Regions from separate parts of the Homo sapiens genome. Here region 1 is linked to region 2. Evidence: fine-mapped expression QTL. A gene starts in region 2. The other region holds a variant in brackets. All regions are shown on one strand. Distances are from middle to middle. Region 1 holds the start of LOC101927759 (a long non-coding RNA gene). Region 2 holds the start of NQO2 (N-ribosyldihydronicotinamide:quinone dehydrogenase 2).

Region 1 (8,404 bases), 22 kb before region 2:
GTTCAAACCACATCTGCCCCTCTACAGCTATGACCCTTGGGCAGATGTCTTTTTTTTTTTTTTTTTTTGAGATGGAGTCTCGCTCTGTGGCCAGGCTGGAGTGCAATGGCACGATCTCACCTCACTGCAACCTCCACCTCCCGGGTTCAAGTGATTCTCCTGCCTCAGCCTCCCAAGTAGCTGGGACTATAGGCATATGCCACCACACCCGGCCAATTTTTGTATTTTTTAGTAGAGACGGGGTTTCACCATGTTGGCCAGGCTGGTCGTGAACTCCTGACCTCAGGTGATCCTCCCACCTCGGCCTCCTTTTAAAGTGCTAGGATTACAGGATGGAATAACACTTTCCTTTAAGGGCCAACGAAATCACTTGAGCATGCATCCATCAGAGGGAGGGCGGCTTAGGAGAGGTTCCCACACGGTGCCCACTGCTGAACTGTTCATTAGCTAGCTTTTTCCTGCATCCCCATCTTATCGCCATTTTCTGGGGCTCGGTTTTTCCGTCTTGAGAAAGAAATAGGCCTGTGCTTATTTCCCTCTCCCCTGGGACAAGGCACCAGCCACTCTCCTGAGCTGCTGGGAACTTCTCCAAAATTCCTGGTGCTTCCTCACATTGAGCAACATGAGTCTCTTTCCTCTTTTTACCAGGCTCCACCCACGAGAGGCTCTGAGACAAACTACACAACCAAAGAAGTCTTTCTGCATCCACAAAGCCCTGTTTGCCTAAGAAAAAGGTCGCGGGGCCCAATCACACACACCTGGCTGCAGTCATTTCCAATTTTCTTTTTTTTTTTTTAATGGCAATTCCTGCTGCCCTGCTGATACTGAATTTATTTTTTATTTTAAGTTTTTCAGCAATAAGATCTTAAAAACCGGCCGGGCGCGGTGGCTCATGCCTGTAATCCCAGCACTTTGGGAAGCCAAGGCAGGCAGATCACCTGAGGTCGGGTGAGTTCAGCCTGACCAACATGGAGAAACCCTGTCTCTACTAAAAATACAAAATTAGCCGGGCATGGTGGCGCATGCCTGTAATTCCAGCTACTCGGGAGGCTGAGGCAGGAGAATCGCTTGAACCAGGGAGGTGGAAGTCGAGGTGAGCCGAGATCGCGCCATTGCACTCCAGCCTGGGCAACAAGAGTGAAACTCCGTCTCAAAAAAAAATTCTTAAAAACCGGCAGAAAATGTATCAGGGTGCCCGGTACTAACAGGAGATGAGACATAGGCAAGAGCCCAGCCCTCGAATTGCTAACAGTTTTGCTTGGGAACCGGAATTAATGTCTTCAGCATACTCAGGCCAAGGTGACAGCACCGGCTCTCAGAGAGGTTGGATTTCAGCAACTTCCCATCCTCTCAACCCACACAGGAACAGGCCCCTCGGCAGTTCGAGAACGCACCTTCCCATACTTCAGAGTTGCCGGAGGGAGGGTGGAGGACCTCCTGCCTCACAGTGATCTGAGGTCCAGAAACCCTAGGGACCCCAGCTTGAGGCTCTGAAGGGCTGTGACACAGCCTCTTTGCCTGCCAGCCCCGCCCCGGATGCAGCCTGCTGAGCGAGGGTGGAGGAGGGGAGCTATGTGGCCAAAACCCTGAGTCACTGAGGAGCACGAGGGAGCCGCCCTTTCCGGCGTGTCTCCCGAGGCTGTCTGCCCTTCCCCAGCCTCTGCAGCCTACAATCCCAATCAAGAGCCAGCCCGGTTTCTGCAAGCACACAGGAGCAGAAGAGAAACCAGTGAAGACTTCACCGCTGCATATCAGGCCAGCGACGGCTGCTCGGTGACGGCGCTGCTCTGCCACCAAGAAAAACCCCAAACCCACTGATCCCACAAAGAGGGGAGAAAAAGGAAGGCTTCATGCTGAAGAAGGAGAAATACAAACGTGTATGTGCCGGTTTGCCTCTGGTCGTTACCGTGGAGGCATTCACACGCCTGTCCATTTGGCATTATTATGAGCGATCCCCAGACAGAAGAACTTAAGGTCAAGTTTTACAGAGATAACCAAGGACATCTTAAAGGAGACAGGCTGTGCGATCATTGGAAGAGGGAAGCTGTGGATCTTGCATTCATGCATTTGGATGAAGATGACACTGGAAACTGCACGTTGCAGGTTGAGGTGGCCAAGTATCAACGGAATGGGAAATATGAGGCTTCAGGAAGGAAGTGCGCGAACCACAGGAAGGCTCCGTCTCTACGGCAGAAGCGGCCACGCCGCAGCCCATCCAAACGCCGCGACACGAGTGAGTTGTCCTCATCGAACACATTTCATCCTGTGGATTTTGAGGATGGCCAGAGAAGACCTTCAAGGAGAGTCAAGTTTGGACCAACTCGGAGGCTCATTGTCTTTGACAGACACCCAGCTGGTGAACCTGTGTCCTGGAGGAATGCAGGAGCAGCTGCTCATTGTATTCAAACCTTTGATGGAAGGTGGTTTGAATGATAATGGTTGAACAGACTCCAAGGCTGAGAGGACGGGCGGGCGGCTTCCTTCAGTGTCCCTGAGGCCAACACACTCAGTGCTCCGATTCCACAGAGGGGGACTTTGGGTGGTGCTGGGGGCGTTGAGGAAGAAGGGCCCCTGGGCACAGCCAGCAGTGCTGTCCTCAGTAGTGATGACAAGGAGGAGGAGGAAAAGGGAAAAGAGGAGGATATGATGACAAAGATGATATTTAATCCCTCAAACTTGCTTTTAGGGAAGTTCCTCCATCTGCATGTGGCTGTGTGTCAGGGTGATTATTAGTAGGGTTACGTGAACACGGCACAGTGGTACAATGCCATCAGACTAAATTTTTTAAAAGTTTTAAATTTTCATTGTAACTGGCAATTAATGATTTTTAAATTATTTTTATTTATTTATTTGTTTTTTGAGACAGGTCTCATTCCGTCACCCAAGGCTGGAGTGCAGTGGTGTGATCTCAGCTCACTGCAACCTCTGCCTCCCAGCTCGAGCGATTCTCTCACCTCAGCCTCCCAAGTACCTGGGACTGCAGATGTGTGCCACCACACCTGGCTAATTTTTTTTTTTTTTTATAGGGTTGGGGTTTCGCCATGTTGCCCAGGCTGGCCTCAAACTGCTGAACTCAAGCAATCTGCCCATCTTAGCCTCCAAAAATGCTGGGATTCCAGGTGAGAGCCATCACGCCTGGCTATTTTTAAAAAGAGTCTTGCTCTGTCATCCAGGCTGGAGTGCAGTGACACAGTCATGGCTCATTGCAGCCTTGAACTCCTGGACTCACGTGACCCTCTTGCTTCAGCCTCCTGAGTAGCTGGAATTACAGGTGCGTGCCACCATGCCTAACTAATGTATATTTTTAAATTTTTTGTAGAGATGGGTCTCATTATGTTGCCCAAGCTGGTCTTGAACTCCTGGCCTCAAGCAGTTATCCCATCTCAGCCTCCCAAATTGCTGGGATTACAGGCATGACCCACAGTGCCCAGCCATTAATTTTTTTTTTTTTTTTTTGACGGAGTCTCGCTCTGTCACCCAGGCTGGAGTGCAGTGGCACAATCTCGGCTCACTGCAAGCTCTGCTTCCCAGCTTCACGCCATTCTCCTGCCTCAGCCTCCCGGGTAGCTGGGACTACAGGCGCCCGCCACCAGACCCGGCTAAATATTTGTATTTTTAGTAGAGACAGGGCTTCACTGTGTTAGCCAGGGTGGTCTCGATCCGCCACCTCAGCCTCCCAGAGTGCTGGGATTACAGGCGTGAGCCACCGCACCCGGCCTCAGACAACATGACTTTATTACTGGAAACCAACTAAGAAAAAATTATGATTAGGAGGAGAAAACAGCAAACGGTCGGGGTCAAAAACCAATATTCAGCAATCAATAGCTTTTACCAATCAAAAGAACTTTTAGAAGATATAATTGAAGACAAAATCCTATTTATAATAGCAAACAACAGCAAAAGCAAGGAATGAACTTAGTCAATGTGCACTGCCTGTAGGAGATGACCTCGTGATCGGCATGCCCGCCTTGGCCTCCCAAAGTGCTGGGATTACAGGAGTGAGCCACTGTGCCCAAAAAAATAAATTTTGTAATGTTTCACTTAACAAAAGAGATACATTCTGAGAAATGTATCATTAAGTGATTTCATAATTAGTTGATTTCATTGTCACGCAAACATCATAGAATGCACTTACACAAACCTAGATGGTACAGCCTACTACACACCCAGGCTTTATGGTAGAGCCTATTGCCCTTGGCTATAAACCTGTAGAGATGTTACTGTACTGAATACTGTAGGCAACTGTAACACAATAATAGGTATCTCTGTATCTAAACATGGAAAAGGTACAGTAAAATTACTGTATTAGTCCAGGTGCAGGCAGCTCATGCCTGTAATCTCAGCACTTGGGGAAGCTGAGGTGGGTGGACTGCTTGAGACCAGGAGTTCAAGACCAGCTTGGGCAACATAATGAGATCCTGTCTCTACCAAAAATTAAAATAATTAGCCAGGCGTGGTAGCATGTGCCTGTAGTCCTAGTTACTAGGGATGCTGAGGCAGGAGGATCACTTGAGCCTAGTGAGGTATGATCATGCCACTGCACCCAGCTGGGGCAACAGAGTGAGACCTCATCTATAAAAATAATAAAATAAATCTTAAATAAATTTTAATAAACAAAACATGGCATTATAATCTTAGGGGACCACCATCGTACATGCAGTCCATCACTGATTGAAACATCATGCAACATATAACCATATATGTTAATGGCTGTTCAATTAAAACTTCATAGTCCTAATGTAAATTTAAAAAGACAAAGAAGAAAATTAAGCAACAGGCCCAGATTCAACTTTTCTATGAAAAATAGAAACTGTCATGTTGAGTCATAAAATAAAAAAACTAGCAAATCCAGCTCTATGCTCAGAGAATTACCAGAAAATAAAATTACATGAAGCTTGAATATAGGGAGATGGAAAGATATTAGACAAATA[T/C]TAAAGAAAATCTGGGCCAGGTGTGGTGGCTCACACCTGCAATCCCAGCACTTTGGGAGGCCCAAGGTGGGAAGATTACTTGAGGCAAGGGGTTTGAGACCAGCCCGGGCAACATAGTGAAACTCTGTCTCTTTAAAAAAGAAAGAAAAGAAAAGAAAGAAAGAAAAGAAAATCTCAGTGAGTGATGGTCAGAATAGAATTCAACATAACAAGCTCATTATTAAAATATTTGATCTCACTGTGTACAATTCTGAAGACACTCATTCATGTACTTCATTAAATATTTCTAGTTTGCTAAAAATAGAATTACCCTTCAACCCAGCAATCCCATTACTGGGTATCTACCAAAAGGAAAAAAAAAATCATTCTATGAAAAGATGCCTGCACTTGTATGTTCATCACAGAACTATTTACAGTAGCAAAGACATGGAATCAACCCAGGTGCCCATCAACAGTGGACTGGATAAAGAAAGTGTGGTACACGGACGCCATGGAATACTATGCAGCCATAAAAAAACATGAAATCCTGTCCTTTGCAGTAACGTGGATGCAGCTGGAGGTCATTATCCTAAGTGAATCAACACAGAAACAAAACCAAATTCCCCATGTTCTAACTTATAAGTGGGAACTAAACATTGGGTACACAGGGGTGAAAAGACGGGATCAATAGATGCTGGGAATCCAAAAGCGGGAAGGAAGGGAGGAAAGGAAGTGTTGAAAAACTATCTATTGGGAACTATGCTCACTGTTTGGGTGATGGGATCAATAGAAGCCCAAACCCCAGCGCCACCCAATATTCCCCTGAAACAGTACTGGCCATGTGCTCCTTAAAGCTAAAATTAAAAACAAACAAAAAACAGAAAGAAAAAAGTATCCCCAGGTAGCTATGTTGTAATTTTATTTCATGACAGCACCATCTTCTCTTTGCCTGCGCCTGGGCCTCCTAGTGTGCTGCTTACGTGATGCCCACGTGCCACAGAGTTATTGCCCGAAGTGCCAGTGGGCTGTGCAGGGGATGGGCTCTTCCTTCCAGATGGTCTGCAGCCTCTGGGACCACGCAGCCACCATCCCCTTTCTTTCTTCTTCGGATGCAATTTCAGGAGCAAAGCTGATCTGAGGGGCAAGGACTTTAAATCCACAGAAGTGTAATGTGCCATGCTAAAGCCACAGGGGAAGAAAAGAACTCATTAGAAACTACACCTGTTACATACCATTCAGTTAAATGATTTAAGGGGGGAAATGGTGTGAAACAAACCTTCAAAAAATCATGAAACAACCTTAATGTTACAGGCAACTGAAAGCTAAACTTCCCTATGGCTTTAGGACACAGCCTTGCATAAGAGCCGTGAAGAACTTGGGGCAGTTGCAATTTCCAAGCTCTATTTTTATAACTGCAATTAACCTACAATCTTTGCAACTGATTCAGATGCCAAACATTATAGTTCTGCTTGATTGGGCAAATTATGGTACATTCACACTATAGATTATTCCAGAATGAGGTTATTCTAGCTATAATATATACCATGGAAGTTTGTTCAAGATATCTGTTAAATGAAAATAACAAACAAATTTTAAGCCGTATTTATGATATACCATTCATGTAAAAGAGCAGTAAATGTAATAAACCTATAATAAAAATTATGTATGTGAGAAAATATATAGGCCCTAAGAAAATAAATCAAACCATTTAAAGTGATTCTTTCTGAGGTGGGAGGGATTAAAGGGATTTTCTCTTTTTATATTTCATATTGTCTCTTTTTTTTTTGGCCATAATATGTACTTCTGCAAACTGAAAAAAAAAAAGATTTTTTTAAAAGCAAGAAGAATTTGAACTTGGCTAATGACACATAAGAGACCAGTTGGCCTGTGAAGAAGCAAGGTCAGGTTTATAAATTATCATTTCCTTCAGTAGACTATCAGTAACTGGAATCACGTACTTTTTCCTTTCAAAGAGGACCACTTTTTTTCTAAAAATGTCACACTCAATCCTCTGCATTACTTCCTTTAAAACCCACACCCTCATCCAGGCCTGCCCTGTCAGGTGGGGAGTGAGAGGCCCACACACCACTATCCACATTTTTTTCCTCAGGCAACATCATTTTATTTATTTGTTTGTTTGTTTGCTTGTTTTTGAGGTGGATTCTCATTCTGTTGCCCAGGCTGGAGTGCAGTGGTGCAATCCTGGCTCACTGCAACCTCCGTCTCTCAGGTTCAAGCGATTCTGCTGCCTCAGCCTCCCAAGTAGCTGGGACTACAGGTGTCCGCCACCACACTCGGCTAATTTTTGTGTTTTAGTAGAGATGGGGTTTCGCCATGTTGGCCAGGCTGGTCTCAAACTCCTGACCTCAGGTGATCCACTGCCTCAGCCTCCCAGAGTGCTGGAATTACAGGCGTGAGCCACCGCACCCAGCTTCAGACAACATGACTTTATTACTGGAAACCAACTAAGAAAAAATTATGATTAGGAGGAGAAAACAGCAAATGGTCGGGGTCAAAAACCAATATTCAGCAATCAATAGCTTTCACCAATCAAAAGAACTTTTAGAAGATATAATTGAAGACAAAATCCTATTTATAATAGCAAACAACAACAAAAGCAAGGAATGAACTTAGTCAATGTGCACTGCCTGTAGAAGGAAAAATCATTGTGTTTTGAAAGGACATAATAGGATTAATTTCTCTGATATATGAAGAGCACTGACAAATAGAAAATTAAAAAATACCAAACCAATAGGACATGGGCAAGGCACGTGCACCTAGAGAGAGTTCACAGAAAAGGGGTGACGCGTGCATTTTCCCAGCAAACTCCCTACCCCTCAAGAACGAGCTCTCCCCCTGTCTCGACAAACCTCCCTTAAACAACCTGGAAGAACAGTTGACCCCTAGGTTTCTGGGTTCCCTGGAGCCCCTGACCTGGAGTCTGCTCCCCACTCCCTCCCTCTGCCACCCCTCACCAGGGGTTCCTTCGTGGGACACCCCAGCACGTTGGAACTGCTCTGCCCACCACCTTCCCTTTGGCAGGTGGCCACTACTCGGCCACATTTCAGGCCCAGGGACACTCACGCAGGCACCAAGAGGTCCCCTGGGGAAGCAGGCCTGGGAGGGGCCTGCGGACTGGGAGGTGGGTGTGTGCTGGCTCCATAGGCCCCTTGCCCCTGTGGGGGTTGGCATGGCCAGCAGAGACCAGCATGCGGCCATCAGAATGCAGGGCCTGGGGTGCCACTTGCCAGGGTCCAAGGGCAGTGCTGCCCTCACCAAGCACTGCCAGAGCCATATGGATGGCCTCCACCCGCACGTATCACAACACACGCAGGGCCACCTTGGGGCCATTCTGCTGACCAAGCTAAGCAGGTTTGGCTTAGCTTCTGCCCAAACCATATCAAAAGCTATAATTAGGGCATGTTTTCCCTATTGGTCAAGCTTTTCAAATCTGTCAAGTAAAGCATTTAAAAGGGGCAAAATGTTATAATTTT
Region 2 (8,241 bases):
TAGAATTCTCAGCAGCGAGCATGTGTCAGGGAGAGACATGGTTGTCTTAGCACTGAGGCTGAAATCCTGGATGTTCTTGGGAGGGCAGTGATTGTGAAGAACAAGTTACTTGTCTAGTTCCTGGGGGTCACTCCTCAAAGCCTCCCGATGAGGCAAGTTTACAGGATCCATGCTCCCTGAGCCAGCAGTGACACCCACACTTGGCAGTGAGAAGTGGGGCTGTAACTTACAGGGTGAGCCAAAATGGCGGGTCTGGAAAGGGATTATCTTAAAGGAAAAAGAGAGGAGAGTGAGTGACTTCATCATTAGCTGGGAGGCTCTACAGTGCCCTGGTGGACAGTCACTGCCTGGAGGTGACTTTGTAGAAAGCAAACTTTGGCTATCACAATGCATAGGGAGGCCTGGCAAAGCCCAGGGAAGCAGAAGGCCCAGCACTTTGAGAGGCTGAGGCAGGAGATCACTTGAGCCTAGGAATTTGAGACCAGCCCGGGCAACATAGTGAGATCCCATCTCTACCAAAGATTTTTAAAAATTAGCCAGGTGTGGTGGTGCATGCCTGTAATCCCAGCTACTCAGGGGGCTGAGATTAGAGGATTGCTCCACTCCAGACTGGGTGACAGAGTTAGGCTCTGTTTCAAGAAAAAAGAGAAAGTAAAAGAAAAAAAAGAAAGCCTGTTTGGCTGAACTGTGGTTCAAAAAAAAAAAGAGTGGATGGTGGTAGATGCAGTCAGGGAGGTGGGAGGGGTCTGACCTGACCCCTCCTAGGGTAGGGGTGAGGATTTTATTCTAAGCCTGACAGAAAGCCCTTGGAGCCTCTTAAGCTGGAGAGTAATATGGAATGATCGCCAGTTGTGGTGGCTCACACCTGTAATCCCAGCATTTTGGGGGGCCGAGGTGGGGGGATCACCTGAGGTCAGGAGTTTGAAACCAGCCTGGTCAATGTGGCAAAACACCATCTCTACTAAAAAATACAAAAATTATCCGGGTATGGTGGCATGTGCCTGTAGTCCCAGCTACTTGGGAGGCTGAGGCAGGAGAATCACTTGAACCTGGGAGGTGGAGGTTGCAGTGAGTCAAGATTGTGCCATTGCACTCCAGCCTGGGCAACAGAGCAAGACTCTGTCTCAAAAAAGAAAAAGAAAATAGAGTGATATGAAATGATTTACCTTTGTAAATGTTGCCAGTGTTTCTGCAGACTGGGGGAACACCTTATCCTGATTCCCAAAGTGATTGCCCGAAATCATGTTGTTTGTATGAAATGCTTCATTTTCACTCCTCTAGACAGGGCATCCATTCTTCAGTGTCCCCAGCTCACCACTCCCTTTTGTATTCCTTGGCCCAGTTTACATGTTTACATCATATGGCTGGTGGCATGTGAGTTTGTGACTTCTGTCTCCATCCCCCTAGCGGTTAAGAATAAGAATCTGAGGTCCAAGAGCTGAGTGACTAACTCAGCTCTATTTGAGTGACTCAGCTCTATTTTCTATACTATTTGAAATAGTGGGGAAAGACTCCAACACAGGCTCTTGACTTGCAGTTGTGTCACTGTTCACTTGACCCCAGGCACTTCCCTTGGCACCCCATCCACAGCAGTGACAGTTCTCTCCCTTTTTAGAAACTATGCACCTACCCAGGCCTACAGGAAAAAAGAGCCATGTGGTTATTAAACTGTATATACCAGGTCAAGTGGGCTCTGATATTTTTGACGTGTACATTATTTAATTTTAAGAAGTTATTTTATAATGTTTTCACTTTTTTTCCTGTGCCTCTTTCCATGTGGACAGTCCCCGTGCTGGGCATTCTAACAGACAACATCTCACAGTGTATTCAGTGTGTATTCATGCGGCAGCTAAACCATTGCCTGCATACCCTTTTGTGCCCATTTTCCTATTTCTGGGACCTTAGGTTATTTCCATTTTTTTCCCAAAACTATAAACAGCACAGCTAGAAGTATATATTATTTAATACTTGTTCCTTTTCATGTATTTCTTTGGCTGTGATCTTCGGAGATTAAAGGTTAAACTGATTTATTTTTTCAGAGATTAAAGGTTAAAGAAGCTGATTTTTGGCCGGGCGCAGTGGTTCATTAATCCCAGCACTCTGGGAGGCCGAGGCAGGCGGATCACCTGAGGTCAGGAGTTTGAGACCAGCCTGACTAATATGGTGAAACTCCATTTCTACTAAAAATACCAAAAATTAGCTGGGTGTAGTGGCACGCACCTGTAATCCCAGCTACTCGGGAGACTGAGGCAGGAGAATAGCTTGAACCCGGGAGGCAGAGGTTGCAGTGAGCTGAGATTGTGCCATTGCACTCCAGCTTGGGCAATAAGAGTGAAACTCCATCTCAAAAAAAAAAAAAAAAGAAAAAGAAAGGAAGAAGAATGAGTTCAAGACCAGCCTGGCCAATATGGTGAAACTCCCACCTGTACTAAAAATACAAAAATTAGCCGGGCATGGTGGCAGGCGCCTGTAATCCCAGCTACTCAAGGGGCTGAGGGGGGAGAATCGCTTGAACCTGGAAGGCAGAGGTTGCAGTGAGCTGAGATTGCCCCACTGCACTCCAGCCTGGGCAACAGAGTGAGACTCTTCTAAAAAAAAAAGAAAAAAGAAAAAGAGGGCCGGGAGCAGTGGCTCACGCCTGCAATCCCAGCACTTTGGGAGGCCCAGGCGGGCGGATCACGAGGTCAGGAGTTTGAGACCAGCCTGACCAACATGAAACCCGTCTCTACTAAACATACAAAAAATTAGCCAGGCGTGGTGGCACGCCCCTATAATCCCAGGTACTCGGGAGGCTGAGGCAGGAGAATTGCTTGAACCCGGGAGGCGGAGGTTGCAGTGAGCCGAAATCGTGCCACTGCACTCCAGCCTGGGCGACAGAGTGAGACTCCGTCTCGGGGAAAAAAAAAAAAGCTGATTTTTTTTTTTCCCAGAGAGATTATAGGTTAGAGAAGCTGATTTTTCATTTTTTCCACAGTGCCACAATGTCCTTGACAAAGGCAGCGCAAACCAGTGGTTCAGCCGCGCCTTCAGGGCAGCGCTGGGCAGCGCACGGGCCTAAACCCCGGTACCCCCTTTACAGACTGACCTTGGGCCCGCTGATTCCTACTTGTAATATGACTATGATACCAGCACCCGCTCCATAGGGTTGAGGGCAGATTCCACCAGACGATTCGACACCGGGACCCTGCGTGTGGGCGCGTTCCGTGAGAGCCAAGCACGATCCTATGTACAGAATGGTCCCTGGCCCGGGCGCGACGACCCACAGGGCCATATGGCCGGCCAGCTGAAATCCCTGAGAGCGTTCTGGCCGTCCAGTCCGGGAACTGTCCTTCCCAAGTCCCCCGGTCCCCGACAGGGGATCACTCACCTTCCGACCAGCGCACTCCCCAGTAGGAGCCGCAGGACTGGGACCCGCGTCTCCCCAAGGACCGCTCTAGGAGTTGCGCCAGGTTCCGGCCGCACTGGACCGCGCACTCGCTGACGCCTGGAGGGCGGGAGCGCTGCGACTGCGCCCCCGGGGACCACGGACCGGTGCCAACCTAAGCAGCCCGGAACCTGCCCCGCGCCGCGGGACTGCAGGCCTCTTTACGCAGCGCGCCTACCACGCCGAGGCCCCGCCCACTCACCCGCCCCGCCCGTGAGCCCCGCCCACACCCCGCCCCGCCCCCGAGCCCCGCCCACTCCCCGCCCCGGCGGTGCGGTGCCTCGCTCCGCGCCCGTCCGCGCCCAGGCCCCGCCTCCACAGCGGCGTCCCGCCCCACCCACACCTCGCCTCGGCCCCTAAGCTCCGCCCACTCCCCGCCCCTGAGGTCCATCTGGGGCCTCGCCCGGCGATCTGGGACTGGGGAGGACCCTGCTGACTTCCAGGCAGGTGGAAACTGGATTGATAGAAATCCAGCGCGGGGAGGCTGTGCTGAGAGGAGGGACGCCCCTGCCCTGCGCCTCCCGCTCCCCATCTCTGGCTGGTATCCCGGTTACAGAATGAGGGTCCGTGGTGCAACAGAAAGAATGAGCCACTGATACACTCATCAGCTTGCTCGGATCTCCCGGGGAGTTACGCTGGTGAGAGAAACCAGTCCCAAAGGTCACTCACCGACGGCGCCGCTGGTGTACTGGTATTATGCAAGATGCCCTCGCAAAGGTCACGCACGGATGGTTCATTTATCCAAAGACCAAAGGAGAGAAATGCAGGACTCATTAGCAGTGCCCAGGAGATAGGGGGGCGGGTGGGTGTGGCTATAAAAACGCAACCCGGGGGGTGCCTGTGAAGGAAATCTGCGTCCCGCGGAACGCAACACGCTGTTGGGATACTGGATTGTCCTTTGTGAGATGCCACTATCGGGGGAAACCGGATGGCTTCACAGAAAAAGTTCGTTTAAAGGAAAATGGTTTAAGGCCAAGGAAATACCTAGAAAACGGAAAGTCTTGAAACCAGAGCCGGTGGGGAGTTATGGGGGGCGGTGCTGGTGAACAGTTTGGGCCGACTTTTTCCAGCGCTTGCTGGCTTCTGCCACCTCATTTGGCAGTCACCTGCCACTGTGACCTCCCCAAGTCCCTTCTCCAAACTCAATTCCTTGATTTCTGGTGTCCCGGGATGGCCCCACTCCAACAATAGAGCAGAAGGAAGGAAGGTTTCCCCTGTGTTTAGAACGTTCCTAACGAAAATAACTGCAACTCTTGATTGTACCTCCTGAGGGTCGTTGGGACTTTCCCTCTCAGACATTTATTGGTTCATTCATTCGTTCATTTTGCTGTAACTCACAGTGGCCCTCCCCATCCTAAGGTGCACTGCTGGGATTGGTCTATGTGCTGATGATGTTCTCCTTGTCTTCAGAGGTGAGAATGTGCCCTCCCTCCGAGATGCCCTCTTGCCCCTGAGCTCCCCAGCAGGGAATAGGCTGCCTTGTCTTGTGAGTCCAGATCCTGGGAACAACTTTCATTTAGGAATGGAACAGCAGGTCCTGGGAGCATTGGCGCCTGCGCGCCCATCATGCGCGTGTGTGATGCAACATCACCACCTTGTGGCAGCGAGGAGCTATCACAACGTGGACTGAGCAAGTTGCTCCCTGCTTGGGGTTGGGAGCTGGACTGGCCTAGTTCCCTGGGTCTTTTGTAACCTGAATGGTGGTAGATTCCAGGACAGTTCAGTAGGAGCCCATCCTCAAAAGGAAAATAACAGAACTTCCTGCTAATCTGGTATTGGGGCTGAGCAATTACTGCACACTAATGAGATTGACCATAATTGCATCCTGAGTTTGAGGAGGAGGTCATGCTACTAAAATGAGATAAAATCAGCTCCAACGACAAACATCATCTCTGGGGGTTTCCAGATTCTCACTTTTCATTTAATCCCCAGCCTTAGTGGAAAGCAAGAGTCGGAGTCGGCATTCTGGGCAGGGAGGCAGGTGAGGCAGGTACACATCTCCTCTTCTCCCCAACGCCCCATGTTTCTATTTCTGAATAAAATGAACCATCATGGTGCTAAGGTAAAGCTAAACTAGCTGAGCCACCTCCTGAAGAGGTCATTGCTTTTGTTTTTATTTAATGAGATTTCTTTCCCTTCTGCTACCAGCATCCCTATTCCTTTGGAAAACTGCTTCTTCATAATAACATAAAGGTTTTGGATTTTTTGTTTTGTTTTTTGGGTAGCAAAATCTGTATAACATGAAATTTTCTATTTTCACCATTTTAAGTGTACAATTCAGTGGCATAAATTACCTTTAGAGTGCTGTGCAACCATTACAACTATTTATTTTCAAAACGTTTTCATCATCCCAAATAGAAACACTTGGGTCAGGGGCCATAGATCACGCCTGTAATCCCAGCACTTTGGGAGGCAGAGGCATGCAGATCACCTGAGGTCAAAAGTTTGAGACCAGCCTGGCCAACATGGCGAAACCCCATCTCTACAAAAATTTGCCAGGTGGTGTACACCTGTAATCCCAGCTACTCAGAGGCTGAGGCAGGAGAATTGCTTGAACCCAGGAGGCGGAGGCTGCAGTGAGCTGAGATCGTGGCACTGCACTCCAGCCTGGATGACAGAGCGAGACCCTGTCTCAAACAAAAACAAAAACAAATAGAAACACTGCACTCATTGGATAATAAATCCCCATTCTCCCCTCCTTCCACTCCTGGTAGCCTCTAATCTACTTTCTGTCTCCATGAATTTGTCTATTGCATGTATTTCATATAAGTGGAATCCTACAAGATGTGGCCTTTTCACTAAGCTTTTTTTCCTCAAAAACCTTGTTGCTGAGTTTCATCCATGTTGTAGTATGCATCAGAACTTCATTCCTTTTTATGGCCGAATAATAGAAAAATGTGTATACCGCCTGGCCAACGTGGGGAAACCCCATCTCTACTAAAAACACAAAAATTAGCTGGGCATGGTGGTGTGCACCTGTAGTCCCAGCTACTCGGGAGGCTGAGGCAGGAGAATCACTTGAACCCAGGAGGCAGAGGTGGCGGTGAGCTGAGATTGTGTCATTGCACTCAAGCCTGGGCAACAAGAGCAAGACTGACAGAAAGAAAAGAAAGAAGAAAGAGAGAAAGAAAAAGAAAGGAAGGAAGGAAGGAAGGAAGGAAGGAAGGAAGGAAGGAAGGAAGGAAGGAAGGAAGGAAGGGTACCAGGCATTGTTTATCCACTCATCTGTTGTTTGACTATTGTGAATAATATTGCAATGATTATTGGTGTACAAGTATCTGTTTCAGTCCCTGTGTTCAATAATTTTGGTTATACACCTTGGAGTGGAATTGTCGGTATTACAATTCTATGGTCATTCTATGTTTAGCTTTCTGAGGAACAGCCAAACTGTTTTCCACAGCGTCTACACCATTTCACATTTTCACCAACAATGTACACAGGTTCCAACTTCTCTACATTCTCACGCACATTTGTTATGTTTCTTTTTTTTCCCTCTAAATTATAGCCATCCTAGCAAGTGCGAAGTGGTATCTCATTGTGGTTTTGATTTGCATTTCCCTAAGGACTAATGACTTTGAGCATCTTTTCATGTGCTTACTGGCCATTTGTATACCTTCCTTGGAGAAATGTCTATTCAAGTCCTTTGTTGACCATTTAATTGGGTTGTTTGTCTATTTGTTGTTGAGTTGTAGGTTTTTTGTTTGTTTTTTGAGACGGAGTTTTGCTCTTGTTGCCCAGGCTGGAGTGCAATGGCGAGATCTCGGCTCACCGCAACCTCCGCCTCCTGGGTTCAAGTGATTCTTATGCCTCAGCCTCCCGAGTAGCTGGGATTACGGGAATACGCCACCACGCCTGGCTAATTTTATATTTTTAGTAGAGACAGGGTTTCTCCATGTTGGTCAGCCTGGTCTCAAACTCCCGACCTTAGGTGATCCGCCCACGTCGGCCTCCCAAAGTGCTGGGATTACAGGCGTGAGCCACCGCACCCGGCCGAGTTGTAGGTGTTCTTTACATATTCTGGATGTTATCAGACATAGGATTTACAAATATTTTCTCCCATTCTGTAGGTTGTCTTTCACTTTCTTGAAAATGTCCTTTGATATAAAAGTTTCACATTTTTTATGAACTCCAATTTACCTATTTTTTGTTGTTTCTTCCTGGGCTTTTAGTGTCTTATCTAAGAACCCAAAACACAAGATCATGAAGATTTACTCTTACGTTTTCCTCTATATGGCTTTAGTTCTTATATTTAGGTTGTGAATTATTTTTCACATATGGTGTGAAGTGGAGCCCAACTTTAGTCTTGCATGTGGAAATCCATTTCTCTCACAGCATATATTAAAGAAACTATTATTTCATCATTGAATGGACTTGGCACTCTTGTCAAAAATTCACTGGCCACAGATGTATGGATTTATTGAGGATCCCTTGTACATCTCTTGCAGCTTTTAAGATTCTCCCTTAGTCTTATACAGGCATATCTGCCTTATTCTGCTTCTCTTTATAGTACTTCCACAGATGTTGCATTTTTTTTTTTTTTACAAATTGAAGGTCTGTGGCAATCCTGTGTCAAGGAAGTCTATGTTTATGTGATCAATATTATTATCAATTATTGTATTGTGATTCCTCAGAAAGGTTACATAATCTATTGACACCTCTAGCATGGGATAGTGACACATATAACAGATACTGACACTCTGTCCATCACTGAACTGTGTGTGGATTGATCAAAGCAATCTTTGAGTGAGTCTAGTTTCCCCTCTGGTAGGACCTACTTAGACGGAGATAAAATATTTTCTCACCGCTTACATTAATCT

Evidence for each region. PIP is the estimated chance that this variant, and not a neighbour inherited with it, causes the effect.
Region 1: its variant is fine-mapped to the expression of NQO2 in whole blood (TOPMed, PIP above 0.99).

Annotation. Positions count from the first base shown.
Region 1 is chr6:3,017,164-3,025,567 of GRCh38, reverse strand. NQO2 (N-ribosyldihydronicotinamide:quinone dehydrogenase 2) reads right to left here. Exons shown (of 7, transcript NM_000904.6): 7 at 5,813-6,089. The coding sequence ends at 5,913. It overlaps LOC101927759 (a long non-coding RNA gene), which reads right to left and starts at 1,505. Exons shown (of 3, transcript NR_152848.1): 1 at 1,395-1,505. It also overlaps the pseudogene HTATSF1P2. RefSeq lists a silencer at 1-93 and enhancers at 1,132-2,331, 7,538-8,037, 8,038-8,404. The variant T/C (reference allele first, on the strand shown) is at 4,932.
Region 2 is chr6:2,995,212-3,003,452 of GRCh38, reverse strand. NQO2 (N-ribosyldihydronicotinamide:quinone dehydrogenase 2) reads right to left here and starts at 3,559. Exons shown (of 7, transcript NM_000904.6): 1 at 3,368-3,559. NQO2-AS1 (NQO2 antisense RNA 1) reads left to right here and starts at 3,778. Exons shown (of 2, transcript NR_186367.1): 1 at 3,778-4,062. RefSeq lists a silencer at 3,561-3,810.